Linked DNA regions of Homo sapiens: region 2 is linked to region 1. A link means that fine-mapping ties the variant in region 1 to the expression of a gene that starts in the linked region. Tissue or cell type: whole blood. Region 1 holds a variant in brackets; the other region holds the start of a gene. All regions are shown on one strand. Distances are from middle to middle.

The links. PIP is the estimated chance that this variant, and not a neighbour inherited with it, causes the effect.
Region 2: it holds the start of ENO2, and the variant in region 1 is fine-mapped to the expression of ENO2 in whole blood (TOPMed, PIP above 0.99).

What each region holds. Positions count from the first base shown.
Region 1 is chr12:6,872,892-6,880,981 of GRCh38, reverse strand. It overlaps SPSB2 (splA/ryanodine receptor domain and SOCS box containing 2), which reads left to right and starts at 7,679. Exons shown (of 3, transcript NM_032641.4): 1 at 7,679-7,736; 2 at 7,985-8,090. The coding sequence starts at 8,081. LOC105369632 (a long non-coding RNA gene) reads left to right here. Exons shown (of 4, transcript NR_135083.1): 3 at 3,382-3,483; 4 at 5,068-5,218. RefSeq lists a silencer at 7,270-7,719. The variant G/A (reference allele first, on the strand shown) is at 3,115.
Region 2 is chr12:6,910,781-6,918,859 of GRCh38, reverse strand. ENO2 (enolase 2) reads right to left here and starts at 4,280. Exons shown (of 12, transcript NM_001975.3): 1 at 4,201-4,280; 2 at 2,943-3,039; 3 at 2,348-2,443; 4 at 2,131-2,189; 5 at 1,753-1,822; 6 at 1,146-1,279; 7 at 698-920. The coding sequence starts at 3,027. LRRC23 (leucine rich repeat containing 23) reads right to left here. Exons shown (of 8, transcript NM_001135217.2): 7 at 5,833-6,130; 8 at 4,631-4,969. The coding sequence ends at 5,857. RefSeq lists enhancers at 2,648-3,287, 3,288-3,929, 4,608-4,777, 4,808-4,877 and silencers at 4,286-4,476, 4,008-4,497.

The sequences.
Region 1 (8,090 bases):
ATATATAAAAATTTAAAAACAGCCAGGCATGGTGGCTCATGCCTGTAATCCCAGCACTTTGGGAGGACGAGGCAGGAGAATTGCTTGAGTACAGGAGTTTGAGATCAACCTGGGCAACATAGAGAGAGTCCCTGTCTCTACGAAAAGTTAAATATTAGCCAGGCCTGGTGGCATGTGCCTGTAGTCCTAGCTACTCAGGAGGCTGGGGTGAGGCTGCAGTGAGTCATGGTCGTGCCACTGCACTCCAGCCTGGAGTACACTGAGACCCTGTCTCAACAAAATAATAAAATAAGTAAAAAGGCATTGTGGCACATGCCTGTAGTCTCAGCTACTTGGGAGGCTGAGGTTGGGGGGATTACTTGAACCCAGGAATTTGAGTCCAGCCTGGGCAAAATAGCAAGACCTCATCTATAATTTTTTTTTTTTTTTTGAGATGGAATGTCGCTCTGTCACCCAGGCTGGAGTGCAGTGGCGTGATCTTGGCTCACTGCAAGCTCTGCCTCCAGGGTTCACGCCATTCTCTTGCCTCAGCCTCCCGAGTAGCTGGGACTACAGGCGCCCACCACCACGCCTGGCTAATTTTTTTTGTATTTTTAGTAGAGACGGGGTTTCACTGTCTCTACTAAAGCCAGGATGGTCTCGATCTCTTGACCTTGTGATCCACCCGCCTCGGCCTCCCAAAGTGCTGGGATTACAGGTGTGAGCCACCATGCCCGGCCAATTTTTTTTTTTTTTTAATTTTTAAGTAAAAAATTTAAATTACTTGTAGCATTACGAAATTTTTTACCTTTTAGCAACAAATGTTTGACCAGCTCCAGATTCAGTGGCATCAACTGATGAATTGTTTAAAACAACCTTTTTTTTTTTTTTTTGAGACAAAGTCTCCCTCTGTCGCCCAGACTGGAGTGCAGTGGCGCAATCTCGGCTCACTGCAACCTCCGCCTCCTGGGTTCAAGTGGTTCTTCTGCCTCGGCTTCCTGAGTAGCTGGGACTACAGGCACGTGCCAGTAGGCCTGGCTAATTTTTATGTATTTTTTAGTAGAGACGGGGTTTCACCATGTAGGCCAGGCTGGTCTCGAACTCCTTATCTCAGATGATCTGCCTGCCTCAGCCTCCCAAAGTGGTGGGATTACAGGCGTGAGCCACTGTGCCCGGCCAACAACCATGTTTTAAACAACCAGTAGCAGCAGCAGCAGCAGCATCAGCAGCACAGGCGTGATTAAATTCTCAAGCTGAGCTAGAGCTAGCCATGGGGCAGGCACTGTTCTCTGTCCCCAGGCCTTGGTTATCACATGGGTCCTTCACTACTATTCATCATAGGCTGCCACCCACAGTCATGATGTTATTTATTTTTTGAGACGGGGTCTCGCTCTGTCACCCAGGCTGGAGTGCAGTGGCCTGATCTTGGCTCACCGCAACCTCCAATTCTAGACTCAAGGGATTCTCTTGCCTCAGCCTCTTGAGTAGCTGGGATGGCAGGCGCAAGCCACCAAAGCCTGGCTAATTTTTTGTATTTTTTGTAGAGGCGGGGTTTCATCATGCTGCCCAGGCTGGTCTTCAACTTCTGATCTCAAATCGGCCCACCTTGGCCTCCCAAAGTGCTGGGATTACAGGTGTGAGCCACTGTGCCTGGTCTTACAGTCATGATGTTATTATTGATGTCACATACTGGCAAGCATATCCAGGTTGGGTGGATGACAAGTTTCAGGTTCATATCTTTATTTTAGTATGCTTTCTTCTTCTTTTTATTATTATTTTATTTTCATAGGTTATTGGGGAACAGGTGGTGTTTGGTTATATGAGTAAGTTCTTTCGTGGTGATTTGTGAGATTTTGGTGCACCCATCACCCAAGCAGTATACACTGAACGCTATTTATAGTCTTTTATCCCTCCACCTCTTCCCACCCTTTCCCCCTGAGTACCCAAGGTCCATTGTGTCATTCTTATGCCTCTGCATTCTCATGGCTTAGCTCCCACTTATGAGAACATATGATGTTTGGTTTTCCATTCCTGAGTTACTTCTTAGTGTGCTGCTTTCTTCTTCCTCTTTAAAACATTATAAAATATTTTGTACATCATTTTATATATATATATATATATATATATATATATATATATATATATATATATATATATACAGCCACATAGTGATTTTTACACAAACGAATATATGCTCACCTAACAGATGCAGTAACTGAGGGATTTTCTTTTTCTTTTTTTTTTTTTTTTTGAGATGGAGTTTCGCTCTTGTTGTCCAGGCTGGAGTGCAATGGCTCAATCTCAGCTCACCACAACCTCTGCCTCCCAGGTTCAAGCGATTCTCCTGCCTCAGCCTCCCGAGTAGCTGGGATTACAGGCATGTGCCACCATGCCTAGCTGATTTTTGTATTTTTAGTAGAGACGAGGTTTCTCCATGTTGGTCAGGCTGGCCTCAAACTCCCGACCTCAGGTGATCTGCCTGCCTCGGCCTTTCTTTTTTCTTTTTTCTTTTTTTCCTAGTTCTTGTGGTCCTCAATTATTTTTATTTTATTTTACTTTATTTTTTGAGACGGAGTCTTGCTCTGTCGCCAGGCTGGAGTGCAGTGGCAGGATCTTGGCTCACTGCAACCTCTGCCTTGCGGGTTCTTCTGCCTCAGCCTCCTGAGTAGCTGGGATTACAGGCACGATTCTCCTTCCTCAGCCTCCTGCGTAGCTGGGATTATAGGCACATGCCACCACGCCCAGCTAATTTTTGTATTTTTAGTAGAGACGGGGTTTCACCATGTTGGCCAGGCTGGTCTCGAACTCCTGACCTCAAGTGATCCACCTGCCTCGGCCTCCCAAAGTGCTGAGATTACAGGCATGAGCCACCATGCCCAGCCTATTTTATTTTTTTGTTTTGTTTTCTGAGATGGAGTATCACTCTGTCGCCCATGTTGGAGTGCAGTGGCGCCATCCTGACTCACTGCAACCTCCGCCTCCTGGGTTCAAACAATTCTCCTGCTGAGGGATTACAGGTGCACACCACCACGCCTGGCTAATTTTTTTTTTTTTGTATATTTAGTAGAGACGGGATTTCACCATGTTGGCCAGGCTGGTCTTGAACTCCTGACCTCAGGTGATCCACACGCCTCG[G/A]CCTCCCAAAGTGCTGGGATTACAGGCGTCAGCCACCGCGTCCGGCCTATTTTATTATTATTATTTGGTAGAGATGGGGTCTCACTAGTCTTCCAGGCTGGTCTCAAACTCCTGGGCTCAAGCTCCTGCTTCAGCCTCTCAAAGTGGTGGGATTACAGGAATGAGCCACTGCACCCAGCCTACTAAGGGATTTCCAAGGGTAACTTTAACTATGTGACATAATTGTAATTTACTTCTCCTCATTTTCTATTCCTTCAAAATGTAAAGCTTGTGACAGTCCAGCCCCTTCAGCCTGGAGTTCCACCTACCAGTCCCCACATGTGCTGTCTCTCACCAAGGTTGCCAGTGACCTCTGACCAAAACAATCTTGTAAGTAATCAAAACTGAATTTTCTACCTTGTTCTATTCTCCTTGACCCTTCTGTTGCTCCACACTCTCTTTGTCCCCATCGCCCATATTTCACTCACTCATTCTCATAGTTCAACTCCTGACTAAAGACTGACACACCTCCCAAATCCCTGTCTCCAGCCCAGGCCTCTCATTCTGCCTCCAGACCTGCCATTTTCTTGTGTGTTCTGGATGGTTCCATTTGCTTGTGGCTCAGACACCTCAAAAACATATCCTAAACTGAACTCACCATCTCCCTCTCCCACCCTCCTGCCCCTGCCCTCAATTACTCCTCTTTCTGTCATCTCCATCTTGATTGGTGGCACCACCTTCCAATCAATTTTTCCAGGCTAGAAACTTCCCTTTCTCTTTTTTTTTTTTTTTTTTTTTTGAGATGGAGTCTTGCTCTGTCGCCCAGGCTGGAGTGCGGTAGCGCCATCTCGGCTCACTGCAGCCTCCACCTCCCTGGTTCAAGCAATTCTCCTGCTTCACCCTCCGAAGTAGCTGGGATTACAGGTGCCCACCACCACACACAGCTAATTTTTGTATTTTTAGTAGAGACAGGGTTTCACCATGTTGGCCAGGCTGGTCTCAAACTCCCAACCTCAGGTGATCCGCCTGCCTCGGCCTCCCAAAGTGCTGGGATTACAGGCGTGAGCCACTGTGCCCAGCCTCAACTCCATATCTAATCAGTCACCAAATCTTGCCGTTTCATCAGTGTTTCTTGAATTATTTTCATCCTTATTTCTACTGTCCTATTTCAGGCTGTTGACACTTGTCACCTGGGCTGCTGGAAATGGTGTCTTTGCTTCCAGTCCTTTTTTTTTTTTTTTTTTGAGACAGAGTTTCACTCTTGTTGCCCAGGCTGGAGTGCAATGGCGTGATCTCGGCTCACCGCAACCTCCACCTCCCAGGTTCAAGCAATTCTCCTGCCTCAACCTCCTGAGTAGCTGGGATTACAGGCATGCTCCACCATGCCCGGCTAATTTTGTATTTTTAGTAGAGACAGGGTTTCTCCATGTTGGCCAGGCTGGTCTCGAACTCCAAACCTCAGGTGATTCGCCCATCTCAGCCTTCCAAAGTGCTGGGATTACAGGTGTGAGCCATCGCGCCCAGCCAACTTCCAGTTCTATTTCCCTTGAAGCTCCTCTATGTTGCTGCCAGGGTGGTTTTTCTAAAATGCAGATCTGGCCAGGCACAGTGGCTCACGCCTGTAATCCCAGTACTTTGGGATGCTGAGGCAGGAGGATCGCTTGACTCAGGAGTTCGAGACCAGCCTGGGCAACAGACTGAGACTCTGTCTCTATTTTAAAAATTAAGAAATAATAATTTGTAAATTAAAAAAATAAAAATAAATTAGCTCGGCATGGCGGTATGCACCTGTAGTCCCAGCTACTCAGGAGGCTGAGGTAGGAGGATCAGCGGAGCTCAGGAGGTTGTGGCTGCCATGAGTCGTGATCACGCTACTCCACTCCAGCCTGGGTGACAAAGTGAGACCCTGGCTCAAAATATATAAATAAATCAAATGCCTATCTGACCATGTTCCTCTCTTCTTCTATCCTACAGTGGCTCCCCATCACTGGCCTGTCCTATGGGAAAACATTTGCATTCCTTAACTCAGCCTAGAAGGCCTCTGTGACTTGCTGTCTACTTATCTGGCCCTTCTCATGCTTCCTTTCTGGCTGTAGCAACCTTGAAGATATCGTACTTCCCCAAACCCACCTGCTGCTTCTTGCTTTTTTTCATGCGGACTCTTCTGTCTGGAATATCTTCTACATGCAGCAACCGTAACCCAACCTCCATACTGCAGAGAAGTGGCTCGTCTCAGGCCAATTCCTGGTCATCCTTTTAGATTCAGCCCAGGCTGGGCGCGGTGGCTCATGCCGGTAACCCCAGCACTTTGGGAGGCCGAGGCGGGCAGATCACGAGGTCAGGAGTTCGAGGCCAGCCTGGGCAACATAGTGAAACCCTGTCTCTACTAAAAATACAAAAATTAGCCAGGCATGGTGGTGCACGCTTGTAGTCCCAGCTACTTGGGAGGCTGAGGCAGGAGAATCACTTGACCCCAGGAGGCAGAGGTGAGCTGAGATCACGCCACTGCACTCCAGCCTAGGCATCAGAGCTTAGACTCCGTCTCAAAAAAAAAAAGAGAAAGATTCAGCCCAGTGTGAAGGTGTGAACCTCTTCTAGGACATGAAAAGATTCAGCCCAGGTGTGAACCTCTTTTGGAGATGCTCCTTTCCTAACTGCTTGAACCCCGGATAGGAGTCCTATTCTTTTTACTCCTATAGTACTTTCTTTATATCTCCATAATTTTATTTACTATTACTACATGATACATTATTTTATAAAAGTCTTTGTAACCTCCTTAAGGATTCACTGCTTAATCTCCAGTGCTTAGCACAAATCATTAAATGCGAACCAGAAACTCTTCCAAATGTGTTACATCTATAACCTCATTGGATTCTCACTACCAACCCCATGCAATAGATACTAATGTGATCTCTGTCTTACAGAGGAAGAAACAGGCACAGGGAGGTTCAGTAATTTGCCCAAGGTCATACACACACTGGCCTTCAGGTATTCATGCCCGGGGAGTCTGGTCCCACAGCTGGCATGTTTGCCATTATATTATATTGCCTCCTTATAGTGTCGGCACTCATTAAGCACATTGACAGCTATGCTTGGTGAGTGACTACTATGTACCCAGCTCTGTGCTACATGCTTTACCTGGATTATTTCAACTGCACAACAACCCTGTGAGGTAACTACCATCATTGCTCCTATTTTACATAACAGAAAACTACAGAAATCTGGGGCTGGGCGTAGTGGCTCATGCCTGAAATCCCAGCACTTTGGGAGACCCTGTCTCTAAAAAAAATTTTTTTTTGGCCGGACGTGGTGGCTCACACCTGTAATCTCAGCACTTTGGGAGGCTAAGGCAGGCAGATCACAAGGTCAGGAGTTCTAGACCAGCCTGGCCAACATGGCAAAACCCTGTGTCTACTAAAAATACAAAAAATAGCTAGGCGTGGTGGCAGGTGCCTGTAATCCCAGCTACTCAGGAGGCTGAGGCAGGAGAATCCCCTGAACCTGGGAGATGGAGGTTACAGAGAGCCGAGATCGTGCCGCTGCACTCCAGCCTGGGCAACAAGAGCAAGACTCTGTCTCGAAAAAAATAAAAATAAAAATAAAAATATTTTTTTAAAAATTAGCTGGGTGTGGTAGCACATGCCTGTAGTCCCAGCTACTTGGGAGGCTGAGGTAGGAGGATCACTTGAGCCCAGGAGGTCAAGGCTGCAGTGGGCTGTGATGGCGCCACTGCACTCTAGCCTTGGTGACAGCAAGACCCTGTCTCAAAAAAAAAAAAAAGAGAAATCGGGCAACTTCCCCAAGATCGCGCAGTTAACTAGTGGCATAGCTTCACTCAAACTCGAAGTCTTAATCAGGACACTCTACCAAATGAGATCAACGGCTCAGTAATGGATTGGCATCCAGTATGAAGACTGGACCAGCAGGGAGAACTATGATGCGTACAGCCTAGAGCCTGAAGCAGATTTCACAGCCTCAGAGGTGGCACAGGCTGACTCACAACCCGGGGCAGAAAGGGACCAGCCCAGAAACAGTGACCCAGAATCACAGGGAAGTAGAAATGGGATTCGGCACAATGAAGCCCCTCCTTGACCCCATGCTCCTTACCCTCAGGGGCGCAGGAGTTAGTCGCTCAGGCGGCTCAAAGGTCTTGACGGTGGAGAACACCATCCCCAGGGATTCCCGACGCGGTGATGCCATCAAAGCGTTAATTCTGAGATGGGCCTGCCCGGGTGCGGACTCTGCCGCAGCAAGAGAAGGGTTAACTGCCCCGGGCCTTCGCCGTGGGGGCGGGGCCTCGGGGAGGGTCACAGCCCGGGACTGAGACCCGAGGTTAACCGCCCGGGGTGGGCTCCACGGGGGCGGGGCATGCTCTCCGCGGCTGCTGCCGGTATAGAGCGGTAACTGCCCAGGAGGGGGCGGGGCCCCACAGGGGCGTGGCCTCGGAGCTGCACGGCCGTGGGCGGCGATGAGAGGGTTAAGCCCCAGAGGGCCCTGGAGGGGCGGGGCCGCGGGACGGGCTCGGCCCAAGGGAGGAGCTGGGGGCGGAAGCGGCCGGCGGTCTGCGCCCTGCGCGCCTCGGCTTCTTTCCGCCCGGCTCCTTCAGAGGCCCGGCGACCTCCAGGGCTGGGAAGTCAACCGAGGTTCGGGGGCAGCGGCGAGGGCTCCGGGCGAGTAAGGGGGATGGTCCATGCTGAGGCCCAAATGGGGCGAACTCGCGAGAGTCTCTGGCGACCTGGATCAGATGGGGCGAGGGCAGATGAAGGGCCCAGGAGCTTTGGGGCAGCGAGGAGGGAGGAGCGGGCCCGTTGGCAAACTTGGGTGAAAGGATGGGGTACCTGGGTGACGAGCCCCCGCCAGGATTCTGCTCTTCACGCCCCTTTTCTCCCAGCTCCCTTCCAGGTCAATCCAAACTGGAGCTCAACTTTCAGAAGAGAAAGACGCCCCAGCAAGCCTCTTTCGGGGAGTCCTCTAGCTCCTCACCTCCATGGGCCAGA
Region 2 (8,079 bases), 38 kb before region 1:
CAGGCACACGCCACCATGCCCGGCTAATTTTTGTATTTTTAGTAGAGACGGGGTTTCACCTTGTTGGCCAGGCTGGTCTCAAACTCCTGACCTCAGGTGATCCACCCGCCTCAGCCTCCCAAAGTGCTGGGATTACAGGTGTGAGCCACCGCGCCCGGCCTTCCAGTGGCAACTTAACAGATGCTAACACATCTGGCTAGGCAGGTAAAAGACTGTCCCCTGGCCAGGCGTGGTGGCTCACGCTTGTAATCCCAGCACTTTGGGAGGCCGAGGCGGGCCGATCACAAGGTCAGGAGTTCGAGACCACAGTGAAACCCTGTCTCTACTAAAAAATACAAAAAATTAGCCGGGCGTGGTGGCGGGCGCCTGTAGTCCCAGCTACTCGGGAGGCTGAGGCAGGAGAATGGCGTGAACCCGGGAGGCGGAGCTTGCAGTGAGCTGAGATCGAGCCACTGCACTCCAGCCTGGGTGACAGAGCAAGACTCCGTCTCAAAAAAAAAAAAAAATACTGTCCCCCTAGGTCTGCATGTGAATTTGGCAGGCTCTCTGCAATCCACTCTAAGAACTGGTACCTTTTGGAGTTTGCAGAGTCCTAGGACCCTCCACGCCTACTCAGGACTTGGTGAACTGTGTCACCCTTTCTGATGTCCCACAATAGGGTAAGACTTAGAGCTGGGAGTGGGGCTCCTGGCCTCACCTTCACTGTTCTCCAGGATATTGGGGGCAAAGCCACCTTCATCCCCCACATTGGTGGCATCCTTGCCGTATTTGTCCTTGATGACTCCCTTGAGTGTATGGTAGACCTCTGCACCTAGTCGCATGGCATCCCGAAAGCTCTCAGCTCCCACTGGGAGGATCATGAACTCCTGCATGGCCAGCTTGTTGCCAGCATGAGAGCCACCATTGATCACGTTGAAGGCCTGGGGAGCCACAGAAAGACAGAAGGGTCAAAGAGCCCCTCCCTGCCCGCCCCAGGAGTGTTAACCCAAGATCCCAAACTTCCCCCAGCTTTCCGGACTAAGTCTCACGTCCCCATCCTTCCTCTTTACCTCCCTCAATTCACTTTCCTCCCATCATTCCTCATGAGTTGCATGCTCCCTCCCCCACCCGCCCCTGGGAGAGCCGCAGGCTGGCTTATTGCTCACCGGCACAGGCAGGATGAGGTCTGAGTTCCCGGCCAGCTGAGCAATGTGGCGATACAGGGGCAGTTCCCGCTCAGCTGCCCCTGCCTTACACACGGCCAGAGACACACCCAGGATGGCATTGGCCCCAAACTTGGCTAGGAGATTATAGAGGAAGGTGCTGAGCACAATGTCCCCTTCTCCTTTCTAGCTCCTGCCTCCATCTGTAGTCTCCAAAAGGAGCCAGTAAAGGAGACCCCCTCCTCCCTCCCCACCCCTGCCCCAGCAACACCTCATCCATGCTCTCTTGAAAACAGCAGGGAGAGGAATGGGTGGGGAGGAGGAGATTGGAAACGGCAGAGAGCCACACCTCTTTCTAAATATCCCTGAGACCACAGACTCTCTCAGGCCATCCCCCTCCTCTGTATGCTGCAAAGAAGGTCTTCCTTCTGCCTACTGTCGGTCCTTCCCTCTGCAGCTAAACTCATCTCCCCTTGCTCTGGCTTTGAGAGGAGAATGCCCCTGACAGTCATTCCTGAGGAAGCCACTACAGCACTGGCCCTTCAGCTCTCTATCTGCTCCACGCCTCCCCACCCTGACGCTTCCCCACTTTCTCCCGGCCCCGGCTCACATTTGTTCTCAGTCCCATCCAACTCCAGCATCAGGTTGTCCAGTTTCTCTTGCTCCACCACAGAGAGACCCTGAGGGCAGAGCCTCCATCACCCAGGGCCAGGCTGGAGGCTGAGCCCTAAGGCAGAGGGTCCCCTCATTCACACCCAAGCTCACATTTGGCCAGGGTCCAACCAGGTCCCTGTGACAGGGGCCTACCTGGATTAGGGGACCTGAACTCCCATGGGAGCAGGGTGCATTAAGGAAGCTGTTCCCCACCCTTCCCCCTTGTAACCATGATTCCTAAGAGTGGGCCTTCTTTCTTCCCTTCCTCCTGCCCTGCTCCGGGATTCCTTCCAGAACTCTGGCCCTGCTATCCCCAGCAAAGAGCAGGCCTCACTGAGCTGATGAGGGCTGGCGCGATGGTGGAGTTGATGTGGTCCACTGCCTTCAGGACACCTGGGGAAAGGAAGAGGCTGGACTGGGTCGGGCCAGGAGGGGCCGGAAGGGATCAATGGGAGGAGGGGAAGCCATGCTAGAGGAGGACTGGGGACTGGTGTGAGGTAGGGGCATAAGGCTGAGGTGGGGGAGAGTCTGGAAAAGAGAAGGGACCTCACCTTTGCCTAAGTAACGCTGTTTGTCTCCATCCCTCAGCTCCAGGGCCTCATAGATGCCCGTAGAGGCTCCACTGGGCACTGCAGCCCGGAAAAGACCTAAAGGAGGAACATGGAATGAGAGGGAGTGAAGAGGACACAGGGGCCAGGGAGTCCTTCAGCCTTCTGGCTCTAAACTGCCTGCCTACCACATCTAGCTCTCTCCCCACACTGCTCCCTAACATCCCCCCACCCCCACCCCACACACACACTGAGGCAGATGCACAAGAAGTGGCCTCCTCATCCACCCATCTGAGGCCCCACATGCACAAGTGGGAGCCCGCAGAAAGAAAATTGCTTGCAGCACACGTCTGCACACATGCAAGTGCACAGGCAGACACACGGAGGCAGGACATGCCTCACACGCTAAACTCGAACACAGACCCACCTACCCTGGCTCCCCGGACAAGGAGGATCCAACCGCCACAACCCAGGCTTGTGAGCCTGGCCCAGCACCCCATACCCCTGGGTATCAAAAAAGGCCTCCGAACCCCTGGCCGAACCCAGCCTGGCCGTGGAAAAGCTAGGGCTGTAGGAAGGCCCATGCCACACCCATTACCTTTGGCAGTATAGAGATCCACCTCCACTGTGGGGTTCCCGCGGGAGTCCAGGATCTCCCGGGCCCAGATCTTCTCTATGGACATGATGGCTGGGATCTCCTCGGGTGGAAGGGAAGGAAGGAGAAAGATAAGAGGCTTAGAGGGGTGGAGCCTGAGATCAATGGGCGGGGCGGGAGGCTGGGAGGGATGGGAAAGAGGTTACTGCAGTGGGTGGGGGGTGGGTAGGGAGGCGCTGGCTGCAGTCTAGGGCTGTAGAAGGGATTCCCCCTCCCCCCTGGGAAGAGGAGAAGGTCAATGCAGTGAGGAAGGGGAGGTCACTGCAGTGGGGGGCGGGGTAAGATCAAATGATGAGATGGGAGAACACTGCAGTGAGGAGGGGAGGGGCACGACAGTGGTTCCCGCGCCTCTTTGCAGCTTGGCCAGCCGGTGGGGTTCCCCCAGATCTCCTCAGAGCGGAATGGCTGCCAGGCTTGCATTTCTCCTGGGAGCCAAGAAGAGGATGGGCTGCCTGGGCCTCTCTTCCAGAGCCCCCATACCTCCCCAACTTAACACCCCAGCTGCCTGAACACTGCCCCTTCCCCAAGGTCCCACTCTCTCCCAAACGTGTATCCCTCCTCTTCCCGCGAAAGGCGCATGCAATACAGGTGTCGGGGAAGAGGGTCCTGAGAAAGGCCCTGCAGTCCCTGGGGGTTGCAGCGGGAAGTGAAGAGGATAAGAGCCGGTGGGGAGTGGAGGCGAGCTGGGCCTGTCCTCCCCTCTGCGCCTCGACAGATCCCCACTTCTTCCATCTCTCCCCCGTGCAGCAGAGGGGAGGAAGCGCGAACGGAGAGGGGCGCCGTGGGGAAGAGCAGGAGAGAGGGGAGTCCAAGGGAAGTCTGGGGGAGGTGAGGAACGGTGAGAGAAGACATTTCCCCAAATGCAAACCAAAAGGGACGCTCTAGGATAAAAATGCACCGCCCGGAGAGGCTCCCAACTTAGAAACAAATAGAACCGTAGATGAGGGCGAGCACCGGGAGAGAGGCAGGCAAGGGTGGAGAGGCGCAGTTAGAGATAGGCGCGCAGAGGGCCAGAAAGCGAAGGCAGCGGGCGGGGAAGGCCAGGGAGGGAAGGCGCCCTGGGCGCGGGCGGCGGAGCAGGTGCGCAGCTGCACCGGGCCAGAGATGCGGAGAGGTGCGCAGCGGCACCGGGTAAAGGAGGCAGGGGCGCCGCGGCGAAGGGAGGGGGCCACAGGGGCTCTGGGCCTGGCGGGGGCTTCACCTCGGGACTGCAGACTCAGACGGTGGTAGTGGCGGTGGCGGTGGCGGTGGCGACGGCGGCGCTGAGAGAGCGGGAGTGGCAGTGGCGGCGGCGGCTGCGGCTCCCGGGCGGCGGGCGGAGGAGGCGCCTATAGGGCCGCGCGGGCGCATGTGACCCGGAGCCCCCGATGAGTCAGGAGCTGCCGGCGGAGGCGCACGTACGAGCGCGGGTGGGGGACCGACGAGGGTGGAGTGGGGAAGGGAGGAGGATGGGGGAAGGGTGGGGGCACCCACGACCTGGCCCCAGCGCACACAAGCGCTCATACCCACGGCCCGACCCACTCGACAGTAACAGGCAGAGCCGCACCCCTGTAGCCCGGGTACGAAGGCCCACACTGCCAGTGAAGCCCAAGACAGCCTCAATGTCTCACAAACCCGGTCAGACACAGGAGCATCACTCTGTTTCTTTATTGGAAATCCGAACACCCCAGCCGCCTTCGCAAGTCTCTCCAACCACTCCTACCAGCACCCCGCGGCCCACGCGGTCTTGGCTCTCACCCACGCCTGCCCGAGGGCGGCCCCCGGCCTAGGCTCCAGGCAACGCTCAGGCCTAGGCACCCCATTCTGCACCCCACACTGCCCAGAGGACCGGCACAGAGCAGATCCTGGGCCTCAGGTTGTGATGAATTTCCAGCTTTGGGGCAAAAACAGGCATCCTCTGTTCTCTGTCATACATGTGGTGGCTGCCCCTGGGAGTCTGATCAGGTCTGAAGGCCAGCGTCTTTGATCTCCTGGAGGTAGAAGACAGAAGTAAATAGGGACCAGGCGCTGTGGCTCACCCCTGTAATCCCAGCACTTTGGAAGGCGGAGGCGGGCAGATCACGAGGTCAGGAGATCCAGACCATCCTGGCTAACGTGGTGAAACCCCGTTTCTACTAAAAATACAAAAATTAGCCAGGCGCGGTTGCATGCGCCTGTAGTCCCAGCTACTCGGGAGGCTGAGGCAGGAGAATTGCTTGAACCCAGGAGGTGGAAGTTGCAGTGAGCTGAGATTGTGCCACTGCACTCCAGCCTGGAGACTAAGCAAGACTACCTCGCAAAAAAAAAAAAAAAAAAAAAAAAAAAACAAACAGAGGTAAATAAAGCCTCTCCCCTATCTAAAGTGCCTGGCGGCCACCCTCATCTCTTCAGTCTCTTTTTGCCTCACTCTGCCCTCTTTTCTTCCCCCATCTCTGTGTCCTGTTTTTAGCTTCAGATTTTTTGTGCTGGATCTTCCTCTCCTGCTTCTCTCCTAGGTCCAGCTGCATACACCACCAACTTTCCCCTGCAGCCCCTACCATGCACCCACACCTGTCCTTTCCTAGCCGACTTCACTCTGTGTCAGGTATGGCTGCCCCACCCCCCACCAACTCCTCTGCCTGCCACCCCAATTCTTTTCACTTACTCTTCTGGCCTCCTAAGTCTTTCTCAGCTGGTCCCAGGCCCCTTGGGTCCCTTTTCCTCTCCCTGACTCCTAACCCTCCTCTCTTTAAGGGTCCTGCTTGTCTGATGCTTTCCTCTCCCACCTCCTTCTGCAGCAGCTTCCCCTCTTGCCTCTTCCCCTACCTGCCCAGCCCTTGGCCTCCTCCCACTGCCTCCCTGCAGGCTTCCTTACTATCTTTAGAGGCTAGAACTGCTGCTAGATCAATGACTGTTCGGGTTCCAGGTCACGCTGGGGCTCAGGCTCCTGCTCCTTTTCTTCCTTCAGCCTCTGTCGAATCACATCAGCCTCAGCCCGTTCCTCCTCCTCATAGAATTCCTTGTCCAGGCGTTCAAGGTATGGCATCTGCACCAGGGCCTCCTGGCGGTAGCTGGTTTCGTCCGTGCATGGGTTATCAAGCAGCACCAACGCTCGCAGCTTGGGCAGGTCTCGAAGCTTGGCCAGCTCCCCCAGGTTGGCCACCATGTTGCCCCTGCCAGTGTGGTCAGGAGGGGTTCATGCAGGAATAATGGGCTTTGGTTGCCAGTTGCTAGGAATGGGGCCTCTGGGGGACTCTCGGGGTTCCAGTGTCCCTAGAAACACTGTGAGGACTGGCCTGCCAAGCCTTGCCAGATTTACTGCAGAGGTGCTGTGTGACCCCGCTCTGGTCCTGCTTCTGCCCTTCAAGGAATCCCTAAGTGCCATATTCTACTCTGTAATACATTCATGTGTTCTTTTGGTGCAGCAAAGCTAGGCCACAACCCTGTCTTGTAGCTGGGGAGGAGAGGGCAAATTTTCCTCACAGGGAGAGACATTTTCTGTGATCACACCTAAATGGAGGGTAGAAGGTAGGACCCAGCCTGGGCAACATAGCGAGACCCCATCTGTACAAAAGCTAAAAATAAAAAAATTAGCTGGGCGTGATGGCATACACCTGTAGTCCTTGCTACTTAGCTGAGGAGGAGGGATTGCTTGACCCCAGGAGTTTGAGATTACAGTGAGCCGAGATCGAGCCACTGCACTCCACCCTGTAGGACCTAGGTCAGTGGACAAGGAACTGGGATCTAAGCTGGAGTTTAGGGTGGTGGATGCTCGGTTCGTGCTCTCCACAAAGAGAACCTAAGGCTATGGATGGGTTGGAGCCTCCCAACCTGAAGAATAAACTTCATCTCCTAATGTGCCTCATTATATGATACTCTGTTTTTATTTTATTTTTATTGAGACAGGGTCTCACTATGTCACCCCGGTTGGGGGTGCAGTGGCATGATCATAGCTCACTGCAGCCTTGAATTCCTGGGCTCAAGTGATCCTCTCACCTTAGCTTCCTAAGTACCTCCAGGCATGTGCCACCACACCTGGCTAATGTTTAAATTTTTTGTAGAGACTGGGTCTCACTATGTTGCCCAGGTTTGTCTTGAACGCCTGGCCTCAAGCAGTCCTCTTGCCTTGGCCCCCCCAAAGTGCTGGGATTACAGGCGTGAGCCACCATGCCTGGAATTTTATTTATTTTCATGTTCTGGCTTTAAGCTTTTATGAAATCTATTTAAGTGTTTCAGCCTGATCTCATGGTCGTGCTGAGCCTCATGCAGTGTTTCTCACCAGGAGGGCTACAGGAACTTTGTACTGGACTCTGCCATACATTGTTGGATGCTTAGCATCTCTGGCCCCAGAGGCACCTGCCAATCATTGAGACACCCTCACCCCCCTCCACACACACACCCGACTTACTCTCAAAACATCCCCATTTAATAGCCACTCAGGAAGGGTCCATCATGCCTGTCTAGATCATTAACAGGAAGATGGCACAGATACACACCCCACCAGATCCGTGTGGCAGAGTTCATGAATAAGAGAATGCCCAGGGGGTCAGGATGAGAGTTGGGGCTTCCAGATGCAACCACCTCTCCCTACTTGGAGATGCTCTTTCCATTACCAGCTCAAGAATCTGGTCTTGTTGACTAAGGAAAGAGGCAGTTTCCTTACATGTTTGCTGAAATAAACACACATAAAGTCCTCCATCCGACAAGAGTTGCTGATCTTCAGTGCCTTTCTACCAAAAGATTTTCTTACAAATGTCCTTCTCTCCTCAAATCTGAGCACATCTTGTGTTTTTTTAATCAGTAAAAAGGTCATCCCTTACAGGTGGGGCTCAGGAGAAGAGAGGCAGGAAATGGGAAGGTGAATTGGGACCGAGGAAATGGAGAAGGGCAGTGGAAACTTATATAGGATAGGGTGAGGAAAAAAGAGTTGGAGCCAGACTGTGAGCCCCTTAGGAACAGGAATCACCTCTGATTCCTTTCTTTCTTTTAGAGACAGCTCACTCTGTCACCCAGGCTGGAGTGCAGTGGCACAATCATGGCTCACTGCAACCTTGAACTCCTGGGCTCAAGTGATCCTCCAACCTCAGCCTCCTGAGTAGCTGAAACCACAGGTGTGCACCAC